2 linked regions of the Homo sapiens genome follow. The protein of the gene in region 1 interacts with the protein of each later gene in a pairwise test. Each region holds a gene or a part of one and is shown on either strand. Other genes may lie near its edges.

What was found.
Region 2: the proteins of DOCK2 (region 1) and ELMO1 interact in a two-hybrid assay, tested with the Homo sapiens proteins (one study listed by BioGRID).

Annotation. Positions count from the first base shown.
Region 1 is NC_000005.10:169,710,039-169,713,859, reverse strand, and holds part of DOCK2 (dedicator of cytokinesis protein 2), read right to left. Parts: intron 1,926-3,821; coding exon 1,853-1,925; intron 1,741-1,852; coding exon 1,637-1,740; intron 1-1,636. UniProt on the Homo sapiens protein: Involved in cytoskeletal rearrangements required for lymphocyte migration in response of chemokines. Activates RAC1 and RAC2, but not CDC42, by functioning as a guanine nucleotide exchange factor (GEF), which exchanges bound GDP for free GTP.
Region 2 is NC_000007.14:37,442,044-37,445,864, forward strand, and holds part of ELMO1 (engulfment and cell motility protein 1), read right to left. Parts: intron 1-3,821. UniProt on the Homo sapiens protein: Involved in cytoskeletal rearrangements required for phagocytosis of apoptotic cells and cell motility. Acts in association with DOCK1 and CRK. Was initially proposed to be required in complex with DOCK1 to activate Rac Rho small GTPases.

The sequences.
Region 1 (3,821 bases):
CAATACAGGTAAGAATTCAAAGACACATTAATAGAAAGGGGGTTGATCCACCAGGTGAAAGCTCTGTGAACCTCATTAATGGCAAAATAAAAACGGAATTGAAAATTCCCAGACAGTACATTTTAATTCATCCTTTTTTTGAGACCATAATATCTGCTCACCAGCAAAATAAGGACTCTAGCTTAAAGAGGAATTTAATGGCAAAGGCACTAAGTAAGAGTGTGCTGGGATCTGGACCCTGTTTTGCCATTCACAGGTCTATGCTATCTTGAATACACTATTTTGCCTCTTTGTGTCTCATTTTTTTTTTCATTAGTAAACTGAAGACAATCATCATCCCTACTTCCTAGAATACCTGAGCAGATAATATGGAATAATGCATATAGAATACATAGCAGAGTGATACACACATAAATGAGTGGCATGTTAAAATGAATGACTAGAGGTAGGCATTACAGAAGATAACATTTATCTTACTCCGCACCAGGAGTGAAACCAAGTGTTTTATATGTCTTGGTTCATTTCATTTAAGCCTCATAACAAACATATGAAGCAGACACTGTTATTATCCTCAGTCAAGGAAACTGGGACCTAATGGGGGTAAGTAAAAGAAAATTGACTGCAACTAGGCCTCTGACCCCAAGGAGTTCACATTCTGTCAGGGAAGAAGGGCTTTCAAGCCAAGAATTCTATGTGTGATAAATGAGAAAACAGAGGCTGTACAGAAGAAAGGGGGTTTTCTGGAAAAGTCAGAGAGACTCAGAGAAGAGTACAAGAGTACTATGAGATGAAGCCTTGACGAGGCTGTGTTTGCCATGCATCCCACAGGCAAAAGGGCAATTTCAGCCTACAAGGCTAAGAAAGCCAAGGGCAAGGGTGTGATCCATGTGCTGGCTACTCAACCTTGCTCCACCTCACAGCCATACACTTGCCTCCAGCCAGGTGCTAGTAGATGCATTCTGTTGTCATAAGAGGACATGTGGAAAAGCAGCAGGTAAAAACCAGACAAATGCTCCTCCATGTCTCAAAAACAGTCCAAGTCTCATAATGTAAAAATAAAAATAGTGGACATCTGCACTCCCTTTATAGTTTAGATGGCCATTTTTCATGGGTCATCCTAGTGGGTTGTCATAAATATTGCCACAACTGCTTAAGAAAAAAGAAACTGAGACTCAGGAAAATATGTGAGATGAGTCCAGGCTTAGTCAGCAGCAGGATCAGGACTGCAGGTTTTAATATTTTCCCATTAGCTACAATGCAGCATCTCTCAAATGTTTATTGTACATCCTCTACACATGCCACAGAGGTCCCTACAGAGTCAAGAGTATATAACAGTCATTAACAATAACCTTTCTGTAAATAACAATAACCTTTTCCATGTATTGAGTTCTTCCATGTACTCATCATTGCTATGTTTACATCCACTGTCTCATAATTTTCACAAATATTCACTGAGGGCACAAAGATGAGGAAACAGAGGCCCAGAGAAGTCAAGAGTTTATAAGAGGCCACAAAGTTGGTAAACTCTGGTGTGTGTGATTCTGGGGTCCCTGCTGTTGACCACTAAGCAATTTTGCCATCACCCCCTTTCTTCCTGCACTCCCCTCAGTGCAGAGCTCCTTCCAACTCATGGTACCTTGAGGACAACTAAGTCATGGAATCCATCGTGTAGAGTAGTCCCATCTTCTTTCATCAGCTTCACATAGGACATGGCAAAGTTCTTTTCTCCTTTATCTTTAGCTGGAAATAGCATTGTGGGGTCAGGAAAGAAAATGATACATGGGCCACCCAGCTCTTCCATTCTTCTCCCCTTAGGGGGAGGTGCAGAGATGCCATTCAGTATGGTACTCACATTCCAGAGATGACCGATGTCGAAACATGAATCGCAGATGGATCCTCTGCATGTCTTCAATAGGGACAGCCACCTCAGCAGACAGAAACAGAGCTCAGAACACAATGAGTTAAAGGGCCCTCCCCACTGCACCCCCCTACACACTTCCACAGCAGCCTGACCATTTAACTGAGAGAGCTGCCTGCTGATTTACAACCCATCCATTGAGGCTGATGAACTGTAAATAAATTACAGAAGAACTAGCTATGAAGAGAAAATAAAGTACCAAATGTAATCCATTTGGCAAATTGCATTCCCAGCCAATGAAAAGAGGTCTGTAAATTATAGTGAGGAAAAATGAGTCTCCCCAAATTGATATAAAAGTCACATAACTTTAGCACAGGATTTGATGCACTGCAAACTGCACAATGCACATTTTCCTTACACACTCCAGGAGTTCTGGCAATTGCAGCAGGGCTTAGCAAATTAACAATGGTTGTTAGGGGGTTTGCTTGAGGAATCTCATTTATGCAAATTAATAAAAATGCTTTAATCCAATAATATTTGGAAAAATCCTAGGGCTCATCTCACCCTTGATCAGACACATGTCCAGATGTTTTTGATTCCAAGGACACTGAGCTAAGACAACAACCCACTGGTCACCCAGGCATCCCTGTCCAGTGAATGACCCACTGGTACCACTGATTGTGATGCTTTCAGCCTGGCTCTGTGCTGCCCACCTCCCAAAGTCTCACAGCTCCTCTGCAATCTGAGATTCAGGCCAATGCGGAGAAGGTTAGCTACCTGAGAGAAGGACACTGATTTTAAAAAGGAATACATTTGTACTGTACAGATGCCTATTAAACGCCAAAACAAATGTATACTTGGGGGCACTTTCTGTTGCAGAAAATGAGGCTTGAGCCTGAGGAGGTCCACCATCCTGTCTATGTTTCAGGCAGAGCAAAGGAACTGAGGGTCTCATGGGTAACTGCAGCCAATTCATTCTTTCCCTGAGTGTTGAATGTTCACTAGAAGCTACAATCATGTGGGGTGCTGGCCATGCTGATACAAGGCAGAGTCCTCACACTCAAAGAGCTCATTGTTCCGTGTTACACATGGGGCAATGTGTAACAGCCCTGTGACAAGGGCTAGCAAGGAGATACAACTGAGGTGCAAGAGAGAACAGAGAAGGGAAACCTGACCTGGTACATTAACTTTCTGACCACAGAGTTGACCGGGTCATCAATTCGAAGGCATTGGGTATGGGGAGACACACTGAGCAAAGTAATAATATGTGTAATAAGTGGAGAACCGCTGGGGTTTGAATAGCTCTCACTGAAAAGGAAGTCAAGTGTGCATCTTGTGTTTGGAGTCAGAGCCCGGGGGGAATAAAGAATGCTGCTAATGATAAGGCAGAGATATCTGAAGCTATGATCAAGCTGCAGTGTTCACTGAATTAATTCCAAATCCTTATTCCAATGCAGGTTATTCCTTTCTGCTTAGTGTGACGATCTGGTAATGTAATATTTGTAGTTAATGTCACTTCTGTCAAGGAATTATTCCAAAAGGGCATCTTTCAGGCATTATACAGCCTGTGATAGGCTCACATTGGCTTGCAAGCTCTGTCACTCCTCATTGCTGAGTAGAATGGTGCAGCTTGATGAACTGGGCACCACCCACAAGAGGACTATTTGACAATTCCACTTTGGTTACATCCTGCACCAAGGAAGGGTGATCAAGGGAACCAGGGTGCTCACCCACCTGGCCTCCATTTCCACTGGCTGACAATACCACCAGACACATGCTAGGGGGTCATTTCAGATTCAGAGAGGTGCCTCCAAGGACCCTAAGCTCTTACAGATGGTGACTTCTGCTATAAACTAGAGCTAAAGAAGTTTTTCTGTCACTCTATGTCCCTCCAGTATGTTCATGACTGGCCTCAGAATTGAGTTAGATATTTCATGAAGAGAAACATAATATATTCTCATAT
Region 2 (3,821 bases), on another chromosome or scaffold:
TTGGGGACAGGAAAATTGATAGGACAATCTGCAATACCTGGAGACATCTGGGGTTGTCACAAACGACTAATGTACTGGCATTAGTGAACAGAGGCCAGGGAAGGCAGTAAACATTCGACAGTACACAGGACAGCCCTTACAACAAAGGATTATCCAGCCCGAAATGTCAATAGCACTGAGGCTGACACTGCCTGAAATAATGGGTCAGTAAAATGGCCAACAGCCTACAAGTAGAAAAAGAACCGTACAAGTAGCCTCAGCATCGCCCAAAGGAGAAACCATCACGGTCAAAGGACTCCAGTCTCTGGTTTTCTTAGTTGGTATGAATCTATCAACAAGAGAATTAGCAAAAGTTATGAGGAGCTGGAAAACACTGTCAAGTATATTCCCCTTCCAACTGGTTCCTTCCCAGGTGGTTCCATGCTTTTGCCTTCACCATGACTCATCCACAGAGGAAAAATGTTGGCTAAAGAATAAACGCCCATTCTTCTTGGCAAATACTGTTCTCATTTTTTATTAATAAATTGCATTCTAGCTCATATGCTTCAATATCATGAGGTTGGCTGATGGACATACTGTCCCTGAGAGAAGAATCCATTGACTCTCAAAACTAAGGTCAACTTTAGAATGAGATACCCAAAGAGAGGGATTGACTCTGAAGAACTAGGACTCAGTGGCAGCATTGACATCCCTGGATACCATGGCAACCCAGGGCACATCCATCTGCAGGACATACAGGAGTGAAGAGCCTCTCTGGACACCACTGCAGCATAGCTCCACATGGCATCCTGGCCTCAGAGGCTGGCAAGTCCAGTGAACCAACAAAAGAAGGAACTAACCAGTGCAGACATCATGGTGCAGGAGAAAGAAACAACGCAGTAAAACGAGTCAGAAAAGTTGGGTTTAAGGCTCAGATGCACTCTCTAAGTATGCTTGTGACATTTCATTCCTCCAAGCCACATCTGTAAAATGGGATAACAATACTATTCTGACTGTTCTCCATCATTTCCAAAACAGCATCCCCAGAGGAAGGGTGTGTCAGGCCACAGAGAAAAATGTCGCATTGATCCTATGACTCCACCTCCACTGAGAGAATGCTTTATAGGGCTTACCTGATTTTCATTCCCTCAAACCACCATTCCCTATCCAGAGTACAACCCACTGAACACATCTCAGTCCTTAGTCCAGCAAGTTGTGCCTCTCCAGTGTTTTCTACTGAGGAAAGTTTTGTTTTCTACCTTAACTGTTAGAACTAAAACAGTCAAAACTGTAGCCTCAATTCCTAAAATTGAAGTTCCAATAATAATTCTGTTCAGATTCTGGAAATCAGTGTTTGTGGGGGCCCGGAACACTGAGAATCGTCTCCTTCTATTTATACATGTGACTAATTTCTCGACTCAGCACTATGCCAGTTTGTTACTGTAGTTAATTCTGTTTGATGAGCTAGCATTCCTTCTCCCACACGTATTCCTATCTGATACTTAACTGTTCACCCCACCTTAGGCCAATGACCAAATTCTGCTCGTACCGTACCTGCACTTATATTGTAACAGGTTAGAAAATACAGCACTAAGACACAAGTAGTTAATGTAATCAGGAATCATGATATGGCTTTGCAGGCTTTAGTTCTGGCTAATATAGATAAGTTCCAATTGTTAACACTCAAACAACCCAAATTATCCAGGGAAATAAGCATTGCAACCAGTGTGTGCATTGTACATGCAGGCTGGCTTTGCTGAACCTAAAAATGCTGTGCTGGCATACTGGAAGGCTTTCATGGCCACACACATGGTCCTGGGAGCCACACCCTGTGGAATGACTGGCCTTCATGATCCTTTTATTATGGACAGTGCAGAAGTTCTCAGACTCTTTTTTTAAAGAGATGGGGTCTTTTTCTGTCCCCCAACCTGGAGCACCGTGGTGAGATCACAGCTCACTGCAGCCTCAGACTCCTGGACTCAAGCCATTCTCTTGCCTCAGCCTACCAAGTAGCTGGGACTACAGGTGCATGCCATCATACCCAGCTAATTTTTTAACTTTTGAGAGATGTGGTCTCGCTATGTTGCCCAGGCTGAGTTGTCAGCCTTTGACTTTCTTCTTTGGATAGCCAATCCAAGCCCAGGTCAGCTAAAATGCTTCACCTAATCATGCATCCCAGCAGTGTGGCTGCCTCCAGAAGAGATTACAACTGTCTTTGTAATTAGAATCATTCATGTGGGGAACACTAGATGTAAAATATGAAAGGAGAAGTTGAGCAGAGTAAATTTCCAAAGACCTCAAAAGTTCTAAACTAAAACTTGGTGAGAAAAGGGGATAGTCTGTCGATTTTATTCTAAGTAAGGTTAAAGAGTTATTGCAAAGGGAGCTACTGCCTTTCTGCATCACTAAAGTGAAAAGCATGTCACTTGAGTTTCTAGTTCCTCCAAGATGGCAGCATGAGGGCCTAGCGCACTGGCAAGTTCTACAAATAGTGGCATTTTTTTTTTTGAGATGGAGTCTTGCTCTGTCGCCCAGGCTGGAGTGCAGTGGCGCAATCTCAGCTCACTGTAAGCTCTGCCTCCCGGGTTCACTCAATTCTCCTACCTCAGCCTCCAGAGCAGCTGGGACTACAGGCACCCACTACCACGCCCGGCTAATTTTTTTTGTATTTTCAATAGAGACGGGGTTTCACCGCCTTAGCCAGGATGGTCTGGATCTCCTGACCTCGCAATCCACCCGCCTCGGACTCCCAAAGTGCTGGGATTAGAGGCGTGAGCCACCGCGCCCGGCCAATAGTAGCATTTTGAAAAGTTAAGTCAATAGCCGACAGAACTGCATCTGGTTCAACATTTGGAAATAGCATCTCCTGCAGGGGGTTAAACCAACAGTATTTTGTTAAAAGGAGATAGCTAAGTATTTCTTGTAGCCCTCTAGAACGTCGTCATCAGAATCCCTGGCAAGTTGGTTAAAAATGTAGTTTTCCCCAGAATTATTGAAACAGGCTTTTTAAAATCGTTACCTACACTGAGCAATACTTTGACATTAAGACTGGGTGTCTGTTTTATGAAATGCTGTTTTCCACACCACTCTTCTCTTTCACATTTTAAACTGCTGGTCTTGGCCTACTAAAGTGATATCATGATCCGCTCATGGGTTACAGCCGTAAGCTTAAAAAGCACTTCTCTGGTTGACTAGAAGGAACCAGAACTAAAGTTGCACAATTAGTAGCAAACACTCCAGGCTTTGTGATGCAGAGAGGGTTTCTTAATCCACCACGTTTTCCAGATTCAACAGAATGTCTTATAAACCAAACTATCTACTTGGATGGTTTCAGGCACCAAAAAGTGGTTACAAGCTTGAGTTACAAACCTTAATTGTATCCACTGTCTTAGATCTGGAAGGGAAATGTTACCTCCATAGGAATGATCACCTTTAACCCTTGAGCATTAGGCAACCTGATGAAGTAAGCACAGTGTGTGATCAGGTGAGCTCCTTGCCTCACCCCCAGCCACATCCTTCAGCAAAGGCTTCAAAGCCCTTTCCCCACCCGCCCCACCCACTCACACCAAACACCCAAAGGGGTTAAATTACTTTGAAACACTCAAGAGTTAGCTTCTTTTCAATATAGTAATTTAGTAAATGTTCAAGACTTAGCTGCACCTGCAGAACACCTTAATGTTTTCTCACTTTTATTTTTCTTCTCCTAGGCATTTCTCATCTCCCCTGCATCTGCCACACAGCCTCCCTTACAGCCTCCTGTCTTCACTTCCATATTGTAGGAGAGCAGAATGGGACACAGTAGATGCCTCTGACTTCAATCCCCTTACAATCATGCCCTTCCT